Linked DNA regions of Homo sapiens. The protein of the gene in region 1 purifies or fractionates together with the protein of each later gene. This does not show direct contact. Each region holds a gene or a part of one and is shown on either strand. Other genes may lie near its edges. The genes, in order: CLEC4M, CNTNAP1, NAPEPLD, CEACAM1 and ITGAM.

The links.
Region 2: the proteins of CLEC4M (region 1) and CNTNAP1 purify together in Homo sapiens (affinity purification with mass spectrometry; one large-scale study listed by BioGRID and IntAct). This does not show direct contact.
Region 3: the proteins of CLEC4M (region 1) and NAPEPLD purify together in Homo sapiens (affinity purification with mass spectrometry; one large-scale study listed by BioGRID and IntAct). This does not show direct contact.
Region 4: the proteins of CLEC4M (region 1) and CEACAM1 purify together in Homo sapiens (co-immunoprecipitation; one study listed by IntAct). This does not show direct contact.
Region 5: the proteins of CLEC4M (region 1) and ITGAM purify together in Homo sapiens (co-immunoprecipitation; one study listed by IntAct). This does not show direct contact.

Annotation. Positions count from the first base shown.
Region 1 is NC_000019.10:7,761,863-7,766,055, reverse strand, and holds the start of CLEC4M (C-type lectin domain family 4 member M), read right to left. Parts: upstream 2,814-4,193; 5' UTR 2,790-2,813; coding exon 2,744-2,789; intron 2,664-2,743; coding exon 2,580-2,663; intron 872-2,579; coding exon 788-871; intron 419-787; coding exon 1-418.
Region 2 is NC_000017.11:42,681,025-42,685,330, reverse strand, and holds the start of CNTNAP1 (contactin-associated protein 1 precursor), read right to left. Parts: upstream 2,801-4,306; 5' UTR 2,502-2,800; coding exon 2,435-2,501; intron 1,511-2,434; coding exon 1,409-1,510; intron 1,296-1,408; coding exon 1,102-1,295; intron 341-1,101; coding exon 193-340; intron 115-192; coding exon 1-114. Other genes in the region: CCR10 (C-C chemokine receptor type 10), read left to right, coding at 3,508-3,531. UniProt on the Homo sapiens protein: Required, with CNTNAP2, for radial and longitudinal organization of myelinated axons. Plays a role in the formation of functional distinct domains critical for saltatory conduction of nerve impulses in myelinated nerve fibers.
Region 3 is NC_000007.14:103,101,683-103,104,109, reverse strand, and holds part of NAPEPLD (N-acyl-phosphatidylethanolamine-hydrolyzing phospholipase D), read left to right. Parts: intron 1-555; coding exon 556-681; 3' UTR 682-2,427. UniProt on the Homo sapiens protein: D-type phospholipase that hydrolyzes N-acyl-phosphatidylethanolamines (NAPEs) to produce bioactive N-acylethanolamines/fatty acid ethanolamides (NAEs/FAEs) and phosphatidic acid.
Region 4 is NC_000019.10:42,525,675-42,529,677, reverse strand, and holds the start of CEACAM1 (cell adhesion molecule CEACAM1 isoform 1 precursor), read left to right. Parts: upstream 1-1,196; 5' UTR 1,197-1,303; coding exon 1,304-1,367; intron 1,368-2,277; coding exon 2,278-2,637; intron 2,638-3,808; exon of another isoform or gene 3,809-4,003.
Region 5 is NC_000016.10:31,329,469-31,332,983, forward strand, and holds the end of ITGAM (integrin alpha-M isoform 2 precursor), read left to right. Parts: intron 1-329; coding exon 330-437; intron 438-612; coding exon 613-696; intron 697-839; coding exon 840-953; intron 954-1,035; coding exon 1,036-1,137; intron 1,138-1,696; coding exon 1,697-1,807; intron 1,808-2,167; coding exon 2,168-2,239; 3' UTR 2,240-3,409; downstream 3,410-3,515.

The DNA.
Region 1 (4,193 bases):
AGCTCCGTCAGCTCCTGGTAGATCTCCTGCAGCTTGGATTTCTCTGGCAACTCACCCACTGCAGCCTTCAGCCGGGTCAGCTCCTGGTAGATCTCCTGCAGCTTGGATTTCTCTGGCAACTCACCCACTGCAGCCTTCAGCCGGGTCAGCTCCTGGTAGATCTCCTGCAGCTTGGATTTCTCTGGCAACTCACCCACTGCAGCCTTCAGCCGGGTCAGCTCCTGGTAGATCTCCTGCAGCTTGGATTTCTCTGGCAACTCACCCACTGCAGCCTTCAGCTGGGTCAGCTCCTGGTAGATCTCCTGCAGCTTGGATTTCTCTGAGAGCTCACCCACTGCAGCTTTAAGCTGGGTCAGGTTCTGGTAGATTGCGTCTTGCTCGGATTGTTCCTGACTTAGGGAGCTGGGGACCTTGGACACTGGGCCAAGAAGAAAAGGAACTGCAATTATTAAACACCTACTGTGTGCCAAGCCCTGAACTGAGCCCCATAGAGACATCATTTGTGAGAGCCAAGGTCTCAGTTAATCCCCTTTGAAGATGAGGAAAACTGACACCTGGAGAAGGCAGCACAGAAGGCCAAGGAGAGCCAGGTTCTTCCCCTCCTCCTCCTCCCTCTCCTGTCCTGCTCTAGAGTGGGGAGGGGCTGTGGGAGAGGCCCCTACAGACCCCCAGGGACAACATCTTGGCTCTCAGTCCCACCTCCCTCCCAGACCTGGCCACTCCAGGCTCTGTTCATAGCCAAAAGGCCAGGCCTGGGGACCCCAGACCCTCAGAACCTGCCCCTGACCTTGGACAAGGATGGCCACCAGGACCCCAGCCAAGAGCATGAAGGAGAGGAGTTGCAGCACCAGGGCGCCATGGCCAAGACACCCTGAGAGAGGATACATGCGTCAGCCTGCCAGTGTTCCCACCTGAGCCTGGCCCAGGGAGAGCCTGGCCTAATCCCTCAGCACCCCAGGACCCAGGAACCCCAGCCCCAGCCCCCTCCACTCCAACACCTGGGAATCCAGGCCCTAGCTCTAACCTCCCCAGGACCCAGGAACCCCATCCCCAGCCTCTCCCTCCCCAAGTCCCAGGAGTTTAGGTCCCAACCCCCACCTCCCCAGGTCCCAGGAACCCAGGTACCTGCGTCCACCTCCCCAGTGGAACAGGAATGAAAAGAAATTAAAGAATGTGTAAGCAAAAACTCAGTTGTATGTAAGAAAACCCAATTCCCCCTGAGGAAGAGAAAGAGGTGGAATCCTTTAAAAATTAACTGCCTTTTTGGCCAGGCATGGTGGCTCACACTTGTAATCCCAGCACTTTGGGAGGCTGAGGCAGGCAGATCACAAGGTCAGGAGATCAAGACCATCCTGGCTAACACAGTGAAACCCTATCTCTACTAAAAATACAAAAAATTAGCCGGGCGTGGTGGTGGTGGGCGCCTGTAGTCCCAGCTACTCGGGAGGGTGAGGCAAGAGAATGGCATGAACCTGGGAGGCAGATCTTGCAGTGAGCCGAGATGGCGCCACTGCATTCCAGCCTGGGTGACAGAGCAAGACTCTGTCTCAAAAAAAATAAATAAATAAATAAAAATAAAAACTAAATAAATAAAATAAAAAAGAATTAACTGCCTGTTTTTCTGTGTGTGGCTAGTGAGCCTTATCTCTCCCTTTCCCAGGCATTGTGAAGACCCTGTTTCTCTAGCTGTGCAGCTGCAAGGTCACTAGGCAGATAAACTCAAGTTGTAAAACATGTTTTTCCTTGAAAAATAAGAAATGACGTAATGCATGTCTCAATTGAATAACTATCTTTGTTTCTCGCTTCTGTAATATGCTTCCCCCTGCACAGATCTCCCCCTACCCCATGAAATGCTTAAAAGGTAACTTGACTCTTTGTTTGGGGCTCAGTCTTTTTGGATGTTAATCTGACTGGGCTGGTGCACCTAAATAATAATAATAATAATAAATCCTCCTCAACCCCTTGATCTCTGTGATTCCTAAATTATCCTGCAACACCAGGACTCAGGCATCCAGGTCCCAGCCTCCACATCTCCAGGTCCCAGGAGGAACCCAGGCCCAAGCTCCCACCTCCCCAGGTCCTAGGAACCCAGATACCTGCTTCTACCTCCCCAGGACCCACGAATTCAGGCCCCAGTTCTCACCTTCCCCAGGACCCAGTAATCTGGTCCCAGCTCCCACCTCCCCAGGACCCAGGATTCCAGTCCCCAGTTCTCACCTGCCCCAGGACCCAGGAATCCAGGCCCCTTCTCCCACCTCCTCTGGTTCCAGGAGTCCAGGCTCCAGTCCCTACCTCCCATGGACCCAGGTGTCCAGCTTCCAACCCCCACCTCTGTAGGTCCCAGGAGTCCAGAACCCCTCTCCCACCTCCCCAGGCCCCAGGAACCCAAGCCTCAACCCCCACCTCCCCAGGTGTGAGGAGTTCAGATCCCTACCCCGTCCTCTTCAGGACCCAGGAACCCAGGTCTCAGACCTTCCTTCCCCAGAACCCAGGATTCCAGACCCCAACACCTACCTCCCCAGGACCCAGGGGTCTGGGAGGCTCTGTCTTCCACTATCTGCTCCCTAACTCTTGCCTACCTGTAGAGCTCTTGTGGCCATGTATCTGCTGGAATTGAAAGTCTCTTGGAAAAAGTCTGATGCCACTGGTTGTTGGATCTTCTTCTGAATTGACAGACATCAGCTCAGAGCCTGGGCCATCCCTTCCCCTTACCCAGGATCCCAGAGTTCCAACCCAGCCTTACCCAGGAGGCCCAGCTGCTGCACCCTTGGTTCCTTGGAGTCACTCATGTTTTCCCGCTGTCCCCAGATGTTCAGGACTCCTGGGGACCACAGCTTTTATTTTCCACCCTCTGATCCTCACTTTCTAAATCTACTGTCTCTCAGGAAGACAAACAGGAAGCTGGGTAAGATCACATCACCAGAAAGGCTAGTGAAAGGAGTCAGAGCCTGAGATCGGCCTGACCTTGCAGGAATTTCAGGGAGGTGTTGGGGGATGGTCTGGGGTTGACAGGGAGAAGGACTCCTCCACTCATGACATGGTTGAGCGATGGGATGCTTTTAATAAAATTCAATTCATTCTAATGGAAAGCGACTTTGTTATGCCTCCCTACGTAGGGCAGGGGTGGGCAGGCAGTACCGCCTAGTTCCTGGAACCACCATGCCCTCTGACCTCCAGGATCTGCTCTTTTGGTCTGCGGATGCTCTCATTCATGGGAATTTCCTTTGTTTTTGGGAGTTGGAGATGAACGATAGTTGTTTATTTCATACCTATGATAGGCACATTTCCAACAGCTTTATAAAACTCCTTCATTTAACTTTCCTACCCTGCAGTAGATCATGTGACCTCCAGTTTACAGATAGGGGAAAATAGAGGCACTGCGAGATTAAGAAACTAGCCCAAGGTCACACAGCTGGTAAATGGTGGAGCTGAGATTCGAATCCAGGCAGTTTTCCTCCACACTCCACCCAGTTAACCAAAGAGGGTCTAATAACATCAAGGGCAAAATAGAAAGATTTATAGTAACTTTAGTTAGACTATCCCAACCCAAATTGGAACAACCCATGTGGCCACCAGCAGGTGAATGAAAACAAATATCATGGCATATTCAGAGGGTGGAATTCTATACAGTAATGAAAAAGCAAAGTACTGATACAAACAACAATTTGGATGAATCTCACAAGAGTTAAGAAACCCAAACAGAATGAATACATTCTGTAAGATTTTGAGTTTACATGAATTTCAAGAATAGGCAGAAGAACTAACCTTTGATGGGACTCAAATTGGGGGCTTTCTGGAAGGAGTGGGTGTAAACTGACCAGAATGGGGTAGAAGGAAATTTTCTGCTGACAATGTTCCATATTTTTTTCTGAGAAGTGGCTGCATGGATGAATTCATATGTCAAAATTTCTTCTCTTTCTTTCTTTCTTTCTTTTTTTTTTTTTTTTTTTGAGACAGAGTCTCGCTCTGTCACCCAGGCTGGAGTGCAGTGGCTGATCTGGGCTCCCTGCAACCTCCGCCTCCTGGGTTCAAGTGATTCTTCTGCCTCAACCTCCCGAGTAGCTGTGACTACAGGTGTGCGCCACCACATCTGGCTAATTTTTGTATTTTTATTTATTTATTGGAGACGGAGTCTCGCTGTGTTGCCCAGGCTGGAATGCAGTGGTGCAATCTTGGCTCACTGCGACCTCCAC
Region 2 (4,306 bases), on another chromosome or scaffold:
CCTTCTCCTCGGTCTTGAAGCTGAAGGCGAACACGTCCCACAGGCTTCGGCTGACCCCTCGCGGGAAGCGGTAGGAGATGGCATCGTCGCCGTCGAAATAGAGTATGTCGGCCTCTGCGCAAAGGACCGTAGGTGGGCCGGGAACTGGGGAGGCTGTCTCCCAGGCCCCCTCCGCGCTCTCTGCACACTTACTGTATGGGCAGCCATAGAGGCCGAGCCTCAGGCCGATCTTGCCGCGTGGGTTCCAGGCCAGGGGCACGATGCGGATGTAGCGCGCAGTGAAGTGGAAGTGCAGGTCATGGCGCACCACCGCCGACTCGTTCACGTTACCAAAGAAGGTCTGCGGGGGTGGAGGAGAGTAGTAACCACGTCCTGCCCTCTGCTTCTTTTTTTTATTTTATTTTTTGAGACAGAGTCTCGCTCTGTCGCCCAGGCTGGAGTGCGGTGGTACGATCTCGGCTCACCGCAACCTCTGCCTCCCGGGTTCAAACAATTCTCTTCCTCAGCCTCCCAAGTAGCTGGGATTACAGGCGCCCGCCACTACGCCCGGCTGATTTTTTTGTATTTTTCATAGAGACGGGGTTTCACCATGTTGGCCAGGCTGGTCATGAACTCCTGACCTCGTGATCCACCTGCCTCGGCCTCCCAAAGTGCTGGGATTACAGGCGTGAGCCACTGCGCCCGGCCCCCCTCTGCTTCTTTCTCCATAGCCTCCCAGCCCACAACTTTCACACCCAGCCAATCTCGACTTCTGGAAAGTAAACACTCCTTGGTCTTCCCTGCTTGGCGGCTTTGCCCGCACAGTTTCCATAAAGTGCCCTGTCCCACAATCCTATTATTTCCTCAGACCTGAAATCAAATGTCACCTCCTTAGGAAGCTCTCCCAGGTTTTACCCTAAAGTGTGTTAAACCCTGTGAACCGAGTGTTTCGCGCACGTCCTAAGCTGACAGTCCCTCTGGACAGAGTCCCTGGAGTGGAGTCACTGCTCCTTGTCCGAGCCCTCACCACCACCCCCTCCATTTTCCCAGAGGCTGGTGCCCGGCCCAGAGCCTGGAGCAGAGGAAGCTCCCCAAGTGTTACCGCCTTGGCGCCCAGAGTACCGAGTTGTGCCCTCGCTGGTAGAACGGTGTCCAGCTGTCCACTCGGTCGCCGTAGAGTAGCATGTAACGTGTGACCCAGTCCCAAGAATTAAAGGAGCCCTGTGTGGCCACGGCCCGGATCCGGTGCTTCTTCATTAAGTCTATCTGGAGCCAGGGATTCGGATCCCCAATCCGTGGTGACCACCCGCTTATGCCTATAGAAAGGACAGGAGCTTTAACCGGCTATCCCTCTCCCCGAAGTCCTCCGGAGGCCCCCACCCTTCCGCGGTGCGCTGCCAGTTGGCAGCTGATGTTCCGCGGAGCTCACCGTGCAGCCTGGCGAATCTCGGCGCAGTAAGGAGACTGTAGTAGGAGGAGGCGCCCAGGGAGCGTGCATACAGGGGACCCACCAGCTCCTCGTCGCAGCCGTCTAGGGTAGGGAAACCGACTGTTAGTCAGCGCTGGCCCCTCCCAGACCCTTCCAAAGGCCGGCCCACTTAGCGACCGAAGCTTCCCCTTCCGTGCCCCCAACCCCCGCCCCCAGAGGCACACCCAGCCCTACCTTAAAGCCATCTATTCAATCCTGGCTGCAGCAACAGCTGCATGCTCAGAGGAGGCTACCTTCTCCTTCTAGGCAAACCCCTAGGCTACACCTATAGGCCCAAGGCCAGACCCTCCCTAGCTAGCCCAATACCTGCCCTGGTTTAGTACTTTCCCAAACTCAATCCTAAACCTCAGCATCTTCCACAACCTAAGTCAACCCAAGACACCAATCCAGCTCCAACCCTAGCCTCAATCCAACTCGGCCCCCAAAACCTGCACCATCCCCAAATACAGGCCTTGCACCCAACCTCAGCCAGTGCTAGCACCATCACCAGCTCCATGTCCAGCCTTAGCATCAGTCAGGGGCACCAGCTCCTGCTTGGATCCCTGCCACAAAACCCAGCCCCAGCCACAAACCCCAGCCCTAGCCACAAACCCCACCCCTTGGCCAGCTCCAAAGTCCAGCCTTAAGCCCTGGCAAAACCTTAATCCTAGTATCGGTCACCAGTATACACTTATCCCCCAGCCCTAGCCTCAAACCCAGGCACCAGCTCCTGCTTGGATCCCAACCCCAAATCCCTGCCCGCTGACTTCATCCTCTTCCCAGAGCCCAGCCCCAGCCCCGGGCGCGCGCGGCAGCCTCAGAGCTGCAATGCGGAGCGCGGGGGAGAGGCAGGAAAAGATGAGAGCCAGCGGGCGCGCGCCGGCCGGGAAGGACCCGCGACCACCCAGCCGCAATGCGGTTCGGGGCCGCCCTGCAGGCTCTGGACTCCTGGGCCCAACCCCACCTGCCTCCAAGCCCAACACTCACAGTAGCCCCAGCCCTCGGCTCCTGAGACCGCGGCGAGCAGGATGCAGAAGAGCCGGAGATGCATCATGCAGGGCTGACGGTCCCGGCAGCCGCCTCCCTGTGAACGGCTCCGGCTAGGGCTCGAGTTCTGGCTTGGGCTCCAAGCTCTCCTCCTGGGGTTTGCAGCAGACCGCTCTCTCCTCCTTACCCACCCTTCCCTCCCTCTCTCCTTTCGCCCCCAAGCGCTCTGTCTCTCCTCTCTCTTTTCTCTCTCTCTCTCTCTGGTTCCTGGTCCTCCGCTCTTCTCTCTCTATCCTCTCCTTTCCACCCTCTTTCCTCTCACCTCCCCCCTTCCCCAGCCTCTGTCTCCTGGCACGCGCCGGTTTCCCGGACCCCGCGCAAGCGCGTGCCTCAGCCCTGCTGCGAAAGGGCGGGGGTAGAGAGCCTCTCGCCACCGGGAAAACCCCAAGTAACCCGAGGCTGCCCGGGACTAGGGCCACAGGAGTGAGGACAGGGAACCTAGGGCCAGAAGCATCCTGAAAATTTCAAGAAAAGGGAGGTGGTTTGGGGGAGGGGTGCCTGGAAATGGAATGAAGGGTAAGTAAAAGAATCTTAACATTTTCGGAAGGCAAATTATGCTCTAGGAGTGGTGCTGGGCACTGTGAATTTAGCATTTTTGCCCTACTCCACTTTGCAGATGAAAAACCTCAGGCTCAGAGAGGTCAAGAAACTTAGTCAATATCACACAGCAAATGATTATATTCCGAAGCCCGTTCTTTCTTCACTGACAAAGACAGTAAATTATTTTTTCTTTCTTTCGTTCATTCTTTTTTCTTTCTTTCCTTCCTTTTTTTCTTTCTTTCTTTCTTTCTTTCCTCTTTCCTTCCTTTCTTCTTCTTTTTTTTTTTTTCGTAAAATCCAGATCCTGCACAAGAGAGTGAAGTCTTTTGGAGGAGGTGGAATGGGAAAGTGACCCCGTAGACCCTAATCCCCACCTCCCTCTCGGCCCCTCTCCCCGCCTCTTCCTTCCTGTCCCGCTAGTAGTTTAACTTCTACCCCCTGTGGCTATACCTCAGAAACCTGTGTAGCCAGAGATGGGGACGGAGGCCACAGAGCAGGTGGGAGTGGGGGCAGGGAGGGGGAGAAGGGTTACAGAGAGGGAGGAGACAGGGAAGGAATGGGATTCCCCACCTGGCAATGGGCCTCTGCCATCCTATGGCTTATTCAGGATTCTTGGCGCTGTCTCAGACTAGGGGTCCTCCAGATAAATGGGCTGGTGGTGTGAGGCTGGGGTTGTGGGACAGGGACTAGGGCTGAGGGGAAAGGCGGGTTGAACCTAGAGGTCCAGGGTCCCACCTGGGCCCTGAAAACCTGAGTCCCAACCCTGGAGACCCCCTTGGCATGAGTGGTTCAGTGTGCTGGTATTGGAGGTACAGGGAAGGTGGGTATGGAAGGGAAAGAAGAGAAACAGAAACCCACTCCAGACGGAGGTTGGAGTCCAGGGCTCAGGTCTGAGGCAAAGCCTGCATATGGGCATCCTTCCAGGAGAGGGCGCTGCAAAGGGAACTGAAGCTGTAGGATTTATTAATAATACAAACTTTGGGCTGGGCGTGGTAGCTCAGGCCTGTAATCCCAGTACTTTGGGAGGCCAAGGTGGGCGGATCACCTGAGGTCAGGAGTTCGAGACCATCCTGGCCAACATGGTGAAACCCCATCTCTACTAAAAATACAAAAATTAGCTGGGCGTGGTGGTGGGCGCCTGTAGTCCCAGCTACTTGGGAGGCTGAGGCAGGAGAATCTCTTGAACCCGGAGGCGGAGGTTGCAGTGAGCCGAGATCGTGCCACTGCACTCCAGCCTGGGCGACAGAGCAAGACTCTGTCTCCAATAATAAT
Region 3 (2,427 bases), on another chromosome or scaffold:
TCTTGACTCCTCTTTGCCACACAGAGCTCAACCTTCATATTCTCTGGGATCCTCTTTCATTCTGTAGACTGTGGTTTCTGTATGTGACTAGACTTTTTGAGGATAACAACCCTTCTTCAGCAAAACAATTTGCTCTAGCATTTGGTTACACACACACACACACCACAATTTGATTTCTATATTTTTCAAAAATGTTAGTAACATGTAATTCTCTAATAACATCATCTTTGGCACTGATTCCATCTAGATTGGAATTTCATATGGTGAAACCGTGATGATTTCATGCAATCCAGTGATGTTCAAAGTAAGATGGCACCAAATTTCACATACATGGTGTTGGCATGATTTCTATCCAACCAAATACCTGTTGACTTAATTCATGACTCAAAACTGTATTAGAAAATGTGATAGACCCATTTGCTAATGCTTCAATTAAAAGAAAGGGCCTAATTCTAACTAGGCATCTGTTGGTTATTTTAGTTTGAACTGTTATTTGGAAAATCTCCCAAATATATGTTTAATCTTTTTCTATTTTTCTTCTTTCTCTTTGGCCAGCATTACTTAGAGCCTCCAGTGAAGCTGAATGAAGCTCTAGAGAGATACGGACTTAACGCTGAAGATTTTTTTGTCTTGAAGCATGGAGAATCAAGATACCTAAATAATGATGATGAAAACTTTTAATAAATGTGAGCACAGGCACTTTTAATGAAAAAGGCATCATCTAAGTTTAAAAACAAATGAAAAGACTTAGAAATTCATGAATATTGTGATTATTTTACATTTGGAAACAACTTCTGCAAGTTTATGTTTTATGTTTTGTGTAATAACTTGCTTCCTAGTATGATCAGCTCATGTACACTATGAGAGGGTTCAGGGGTGGGTCATTTAAATAATGAATTGGCTAATGTGGATTTTAAATTTCATATCATGATATAAGCACTGCAATGGAAATGTTTTTACTAAAACATTATATTTTTGTGGTACTAGAATTTCCTGAGGTGAAAAACCGATATTGAAGATTCATTTTTCTTTTTTCCATTCTTCAGGACCTTCGGCAAGGTGAGTCAAGGCTCTCTACCTACCTAGATGTTTTTCAGAGGCCTACAAATACAAGTATCTTTCTTATATGCACATTCTAATAAATGATGAAATTCAGTCCAACATGCTTATTATAAACATAGCAATTCTTGCTCTATCAAATTAGCTTATATGCCAAATATTAAATATGGTTTATTTAGGTAAGCATAAAAACATAGGGGCTATCATTTTTAAAGACTTGATTTTCTCTATTGTGGTAAAATATATAAATACATATTTGCCATTTTAAACATTTACCATTTTAACCATTTTTAAGTGTACAGTTCTTTCGCATTAATGCACCCATGACCACCATTCACTTAAATTTTTAAAAGAACAGTATATTCTTTTTTTCCTAGAGCCTTCAGATGAGAGGGAACAGTATATTCTATTGCACGTCTACAATTCCCAAAAGACCTCTTACTTTGGGAGGCCAAGGTGGGTGGGTCACTTGAACCCAGGAGTTTGACATCAACCTGGGCAACATGGTGACCTCCCGTCTCTCTCGGAAAAAAAAAAAGAAAAAAGAAAAAGCCGGGTGAGGTGGTGTGTACCTGTAGTCACAGGTACTTGGGAGGCTGAGGTGGGAGGATCACTTGAGCCCAGGAGATAGAGGCTGCAGTGAGCTGTGATCGTACCACTGCACTCCAGCCTGGGCGACAAAATGAGACCCTGTCTCAAAAGAAAGCCCTCTCCTTAGCTGAGCAGAGGAAGGGAAGGAGTGTGGCTATGAGAATATGATTTATGCCATTTTCTGTTTTTAAATCTAGAAGATCTTCTAAGCACAAATACAGCTACAATGAAATATTTTACAGACAAAATGTTAATAGACCATATTCTTTGAATTAAATTTGTTTTTAATTTTCTCTACACATTTTTTTTTTCCTGGAGTCTCTTAGCTCTAAATATATCAATCAGATTTATAATTTTTTTTACCTGATTCAGATGTCTTACATTTTTATATTAAATGAACCTTAAGCATGATTCTTTTGGTAAGCCAGTATGAATGCCAGTGGTTGGGGGGCGGGGGGGGAGTCAGTTGACATAAGATTTAGTCCTAATAAGGACTCTGTATTCACTTGATTATTCTGACCCTTCCTAAGGGAGGGAGGTGGATTAGATACCACTGGAGGCCCATTCTGTATTCCTAATCCAGTCTCAGCACTTTATTCATACAAAATAATCAAAATAGGTTTTCTACACCAAATGCTACCCAGGCAGTGCTCTATAATTTATTTGCACACCTGTATGTGTGGTGCCACGTTAGCCACTAAATCTGAACTTTTACCCTGCTTTCATCATGGATTTTTTTGTGTAACCTGAAACAAGTCACCAGTGCTCACTGTGCCT
Region 4 (4,003 bases), about 35 Mb from region 1:
CTTGACAGAAGTCCTCTGGACAACTCACGTCCTCTCCCTGGGCTCATCCTGCACCGCATGGAGCTGGGCAGCCTGGGGACCCGCAGTGAACAGGACCTGGGGTGACTTGACCTTGAAGCCTGGAGGTCAGAGCCCACATCTGCCCAGGGGTCAGGGCCAGCTCACATCATGTAGACCCTGGTCAGCATCCCTGGGGCAGCCCTTGACAAGGCTGCAGGCCTTGTCTTGCCCTCCAGGGGGAGACATTGCACACAGACAACACTCAGGAAACATTCCCCTGGTCATGAACCTGGCTTTGCTAAGGAGGTGAAGGTAGAGCCCACTTTCCATCCCTTGCTCCAAAACACCCTTCCAGGCCCTCCCATGTACCTGCTCTGTCCCTTCCTGGGTCCTCTGAGGACCCTGTTCTGTGAGGGGTCCCTGTGCAGCTCCCCATTCCCTCCTGGCACCACCTGTGGGGAAGGTGCGGTGACCACAGGACAATCAGCCTCGCAGAGGACAGAGACCACCCAGGATGGTCAGGGAGAACATGGACAGGCCTTGAGCCTCAGCTCAAGGGAGGGAGGGTCCCCCTGAAGTCTTCCCCAAGGACAGTAGAGCCCAGAGCCACCCACCTCCCTCTATCACAGTCCTCTCTTCCCAGGACACACAGGACACCTCCCCCTCCATATCCGGGAGCTGCAGCTCCACCTGAGACCCCTGGACTTGGGTCTCTGTCCCTGGGTTAGAGGCCAGGCTGGTGACACTAGAGACAGAGGGCTGGTCCCTCCCCAGTCATCCCCCAGTGAGCCCCTTTCCATCCCCCAGAGCCACCTCTGTCACCTTCCTGCTGGGTGTCTTCCTACCTTCCCAGCACACTGAAGAGCATGGGGAGACCTGGCAGCTCACTGTGTTGCAAAGAAAATAATTACCACATTTGGATATGCCAGGGTTCTCTGTGTGCTGCTGACAGACCCATAGCCAGGACACAATAGAGGTCAGTGCTGGAGAGGGGGGATCCTCCTCCCCTGATGGGGACAGAGGTCTCATCAGCCTTGATTCTCAAAGTGTGGTCTGGGAAACCAAAATGTAGACAGAAAGGAAAGAGAAAGTAAGGACAAAGGTAGGAATGAGAGGAGAGGAAACAGAGCTTCCTGGACAAACCCCGCCCCAGCACACATGATCAGACAAAGCTCTGGGCCCCAGGGAGGAGGCTCAGCACAGAGAGTGGAAAACAGCAGAGGTGACAGAGCAGCCGTGCTCGAAGCGTTCCTGGAGCCCAAGCTCTCCTCCACAGGTGAAGACAGGGCCAGCAGGAGACACCATGGGGCACCTCTCAGCCCCACTTCACAGAGTGCGTGTACCCTGGCAGGGGCTTCTGCTCACAGGTGAGGGGAGGACACCCTGGGAAGGGGCGGAAAGAGGGCGCACAGAGAATGGCTAGGGTCCTCTGGGGAGGATGGAGCTCTAAGAGGGGACAGAGGGCTTCTCTTGGAGCCAAATAGGAGAGAGGACATGAAAGGGATAGAGATCATAAAAGGAAAGTCTCAGTGATCTGAAACTGTTAGTGAATAAACAATCTCCCATTTTTTACCTTTTCCAACTGAATCATCAATGAGCAATAAATTTCAAAAACTGCTGACAATAATCACAATTTAAGTCAGCGTGACAATTAAGGAAAACATTTTAAAAGGGGCATTAAACAGAGCCCTGAGCCACCAACCTCAGATATTGGCAAATAAACCCCAGGACATGAAGAGCCCTGGGAATGCTCACTAACTCATCCACAGGAGTCTGCAGCCTATCCCAGGCACTGGGGTGCAACCAACATCACACAAATCCCTGCCCTCACGGAGCTCACGCTCTCATGGGTGGGGAAGACAGACAAGCAAAGAGATCTAGAATGTGAGGTCAGGTGTTGACAAGAGCCCTGGAGGGAACAGAGCAGAAAAAGGTCAGAAAGGGAATACCCAGGGTCTCTAGGGGAGGTGTCAGGGAAAGGATCTCCCAAGAGCACCCTGATGTGATCAAGATCTGAGGGCAGTGGGGAGGGAGCCATGCGGATCCCTGGGGAAGGGCATTCCAGAGAAATGACAAGGTCAGAGGCACTAAGGGAATGGGAGTCACACTGCTGACCTTGACCCAGTAGGACACACACACACACACACACACACACACACACACACACACACACTCCAAGGTGGAGGGGTGAAGACACCTGCTCAGGACCCAAGGCCCCATTTTTCTACCCTAATGCATAGGTCCCAATATTGACTGATGCTCTCTCCTCTCTCCTAGCCTCACTTCTAACCTTCTGGAACCCGCCCACCACTGCCCAGCTCACTACTGAATCCATGCCATTCAATGTTGCAGAGGGGAAGGAGGTTCTTCTCCTTGTCCACAATCTGCCCCAGCAACTTTTTGGCTACAGCTGGTACAAAGGGGAAAGAGTGGATGGCAACCGTCAAATTGTAGGATATGCAATAGGAACTCAACAAGCTACCCCAGGGCCCGCAAACAGCGGTCGAGAGACAATATACCCCAATGCATCCCTGCTGATCCAGAACGTCACCCAGAATGACACAGGATTCTACACCCTACAAGTCATAAAGTCAGATCTTGTGAATGAAGAAGCAACTGGACAGTTCCATGTATACCGTGAGTATTTCCCCATGACCTCTGGGTGTTGGGGGGTTAGTTCTACTTCCCACACATGGGATTGTCAGGCCTGGGCTGTGCCTGTGTCCTCCTCTGCATTATACCCCATGTTAAGGTTTGAGCATCTAGTGCAGGACACACTATGGGACAGACATCAAAATACCGAATGTCTTACTCTGGAGTCCTGATCCTGCAGACATTTGCTTCAGAGGAAGGACAATCTGATGTGGGTAACTTATCGAGGGGAGACCAGTCTCAATCTAGCCCCCCGGGACCCTCCTGGTGAACATGTCCCTAAGAAAGACCCAGTAGGACTCAGTCAGGGTCTGGCCTGAAGGGCCTTCTGGGATCCTCACAGACAAGCTCAGCCCTGGGAATCCCCTGCTCCAAAACACTATCCCAAGGTTCTCAACTCCTGGTGACCCTGAGGAGCCTGGGCCAGGGCTAGATTGTGGCCTCCTGGGCAGGGCTGACTAGGAACAAGAATTTGAGCTATCCGAGGGCTGTGGCTCCTGGAGCTGGTAACCAGCCAGGGTTCAGGCACTAGAGCCTCATTTGGGCAAGGATGGAGCCTCATCCTTCACCTTAGTCTCAGCCTGGAGAGGACAGATGGACAAGCTCCCCAGGCCATCAGCCAACTGCCCTGGGGGCTTAGGAGATGCCATAGGAAGTTTACCATCCCCAGGAGGAGGAACAGAGGAGACAGGATGCTCCTGAAAGCTCCTTGTCCACCAGGGATCAGGCTGAGAGGCACTCTCAGGGAATCCAACAACAATAGATGCTGCGGCCGGGAGCGGTGGCTCACGCCTGTAATCCCAGTACTTTGGGAGGCCGAGGTGGATGGACTATGAGGTCAGGAGTTCAAGACCAGCCTGACCAACATGGTGAAATGCCGTCTCTACTAAAAATACAAAAAAATTAGCCGGGCATGGTGGTGCGTGCCTGTAATCCCAGCTACTCAGGAGGCTGAGGCAGGAGAATTGCTTGAACCTGGGAGGCAGAGGTTGCAGTGAGCCAAGATCACACCACTGCACCCTAGCCTGGGTGACAGAGCGAGACTCCATCTCAAAAAAATAAAATAAAATAAGATTGTTTATTTGGGCAGCTCCCCTATGCAGAGCTGAGGTCAAATAATTATAAATATTTTAAGGTTAATTCACAGACCACAAGATAAGCCAAAACCATTAACCATTTATACTATTTCACTGAGGGGAAACTGAGCCACATGGCAATAAATACAGTCACTATATCAAGGTCACACAGACCGTAACTGGAAGATCAGTTACAGGAGATTTGTCTTCAGCCACAGTCTTAACCTCTCCTCTACTCCAGGGGCCTTATTTGGCATCTGTGGACCCCAATACCA
Region 5 (3,515 bases), on another chromosome or scaffold:
TGTGACATGCACGCACGTAGTTATCTTGTATTACCTTCGTAGCGACTCTGTGGGGCACTGTCATGATCCCCAGTTTACAGATGAAGAAACTGAGGCTCAGAGAGGTTTACAGAACAAGCTCGAGGTCTCCCACCGAGTAAGTGGGAGAGCTAGGACTGGAGACCAGGCCGTGTGGCACTGGAATGCGTATTACATGTACACTCTACTCTCTCAAACAGGAAGGGGCAGGACGCCCGGGCCTATGGCCTGCCCCGTGGGGAGGGGAGGCTGATTCTCCAGGCTGGTGGGGGAGGAAGGCCAGAGCCCTGACCCCGCCCTCCCCGGTGCAGGTCAGCAACCTGGGGCAGAGGAGCCTCCCCATCAGCCTGGTGTTCTTGGTGCCCGTCCGGCTGAACCAGACTGTCATATGGGACCGCCCCCAGGTCACCTTCTCCGAGGTGAGCGGAGCTCGGCCTGACTCCTGCACGGCCCTGCGCGTTCCTCTCACCTCTGTTAATGCTATTGGGTTTTAGAGCCGCTCCGCCCCTCTCCTGGACCCAGGCCATCTCACCTCCCGAGATGAGGCCCTGGCGCCTTCATCTCTGCCCCTTCTCAGTGCGTCTCTTTCCTCAGAACCTCTCGAGTACGTGCCACACCAAGGAGCGCTTGCCCTCTCACTCCGACTTTCTGGCTGAGCTTCGGAAGGCCCCCGTGGTGGTGAGAAGCTAAGTCAGCCCCAGGGCCACACAGAGACCCAGAGCGCTTCCCTGCTGGAACCTGTATGGTCTCTGAGCAAACGGGGAGGGGTGTTCTCTGCCTTCGGCTTCCTTACCCGTCCCCTCCCCTCCTGCGTTCCCCAGAACTGCTCCATCGCTGTCTGCCAGAGAATCCAGTGTGACATCCCGTTCTTTGGCATCCAGGAAGAATTCAATGCTACCCTCAAAGGCAACCTCTCGTTTGACTGGTACATCAAGGTGTGTGGGGTCCTGAGGCTTCGCCGGGCACAGGCGTGGTGCTCAGGGCCCAGGTGCAGTGCCCACCCGCTCTCTTCCACAGACCTCGCATAACCACCTCCTGATCGTGAGCACAGCTGAGATCTTGTTTAACGATTCCGTGTTCACCCTGCTGCCGGGACAGGGGGCGTTTGTGAGGTCCCAGGTACCTGTCTTGGGCGCTGAGGAACTATTGGAGGGAGAGGGGCTGCGCTTGTGGAGATTTCTGGGGGAGGAGAGAGAGACACAAAGAGAGAGGGAGAGAGAGAGACAGAGCGACAGAGAGACAGAGAGATACAGAGACGTAAGGAGAGAGACAGACAGAGACAGAGAGATAGAGGCAGAGGGAGAAACAGACACAGAGACAGACAAAGGAGAGAGAGATAGAGAGTCAGAGAGATAGAGATAGAGACAGAGACAGTGAGAGATGGAGATAGACAGAGAGATAGAGATAAAGAGAGAGATACAGAGCGCGACAGAGACAGAGACAGTGAGCCATGGAGATAGAGAGACAGAGAGAGGCAGAAAGCGATAGAGAGAGATAGAGGACAGAGAAACGGAGGAGGGAGAGGAGGGAGAAGAGGTGGGGGAGGAGGACTGAGGGCTGGGGTTCTGGGGGACATGAGGAGGGGTTCCCCACTTGATTCAGGGGTGCACACGGTGTGAATGGGGAACCCCCAGAAATCCAGAGTCGTCTCCCCTGACGCCCCTCCTTCCTCCCCCAGACGGAGACCAAAGTGGAGCCGTTCGAGGTCCCCAACCCCCTGCCGCTCATCGTGGGCAGCTCTGTCGGGGGACTGCTGCTCCTGGCCCTCATCACCGCCGCGCTGTACAAGGTGCTCCCCGCTGCTCCCCCACCCCCTCCCTTCATCCTCTCGGGCCTCGCGCTGCAGCTCCGTGCCTCGGTTTCCCCGGCGGGGCTGCCAGCTGTGTGACTGGGGCGAGTCTGGGAGCCTCTCTGCGCCTCAGTCTCTTAGGGAGGGTGGCCGGGTTCATGCGCGGGGCGCGCTGAGAACGAGTCGCCCTCCTTGTAGTTTCTGTTTTTCTCCAGGCCCCGACGCGGATGTCACTCCCCTCCCGCCCCGCCCTCCTGGGTCCCTTCTGTCTCTGCCGGCCCTCCCGCCCCCTCCCCCTGGTCTGCGGAGCCGCACGCTCCCTGGCTGCTGTCGCTCTCACTGCCCTCCTCTGCCCCGCAGCTCGGCTTCTTCAAGCGGCAATACAAGGACATGATGAGTGAAGGGGGTCCCCCGGGGGCCGAACCCCAGTAGCGGCTCCTTCCCGACAGAGCTGCCTCTCGGTGGCCAGCAGGACTCTGCCCAGACCACACGTAGCCCCCAGGCTGCTGGACACGTCGGACAGCGAAGTATCCCCGACAGGACGGGCTTGGGCTTCCATTTGTGTGTGTGCAAGTGTGTATGTGCGTGTGTGCAAGTGTCTGTGTGCAAGTGTGTGCACATGTGTGCGTGTGCGTGCATGTGCACTTGCACGCCCATGTGTGAGTGTGTGCAAGTATGTGAGTGTGTCCAAGTGTGTGTGCGTGTGTCCATGTGTGTGCAAGTGTGTGCATGTGTGCGAGTGTGTGCATGTGTGTGCTCAGGGGCGTGTGGCTCACGTGTGTGACTCAGATGTCTCTGGCGTGTGGGTAGGTGACGGCAGCGTAGCCTCTCCGGCAGAAGGGAACTGCCTGGGCTCCCTTGTGCGTGGGTGAAGCCGCTGCTGGGTTTTCCTCCGGGAGAGGGGACGGTCAATCCTGTGGGTGAAGACAGAGGGAAACACAGCAGCTTCTCTCCACTGAAAGAAGTGGGACTTCCCGTCGCCTGCGAGCCTGCGGCCTGCTGGAGCCTGCGCAGCTTGGATGGAGACTCCATGAGAAGCCGTGGGTGGAACCAGGAACCTCCTCCACACCAGCGCTGATGCCCAATAAAGATGCCCACTGAGGAATGATGAAGCTTCCTTTCTGGATTCATTTATTATTTCAATGTGACTTTAATTTTTTGGATGGATAAGCTTGTCTATGGTACAAAAATCACAAGGCATTCAAGTGTACAGTGAAAAGTCTCCCTTTCCAGATATTCAAGTCACCTCCTTAAAGGTAGTCAAGATTGTGTTTTGAGGTTTCCTTCAGACAGATTCCAGGCGATGTGCAAGTGTATGCACGTGTGCACACACACCACACATACACACACACAAGCTTTTTTACACAAATGGTAGCATACTTTATATTGGTCTGTATCTTGCTTTTTTTCACCAATATTTCTCAGACATCGGTTCATATTAAGACATAAATTACTTTTTCATTCTTTTATACCGCTGCATAGTATTCCATTGTGTGAGTGTACCATAATGTATTTAACCAGTCTTCTTTTGATATACTATTTTCATTCTCTTGTTATTGCATCAATGCTGAGTTAATAAATCAAATATATGTCATTTTTGCATATATGTAAGGATAATTTATAGGATATGTTCCTGGAAGTTTGGGTTCTCCCAGAAGCAAACCCAAGAATTTGGGTGAAACAAGCGTATTTAAGAGGTGGCAGGCCA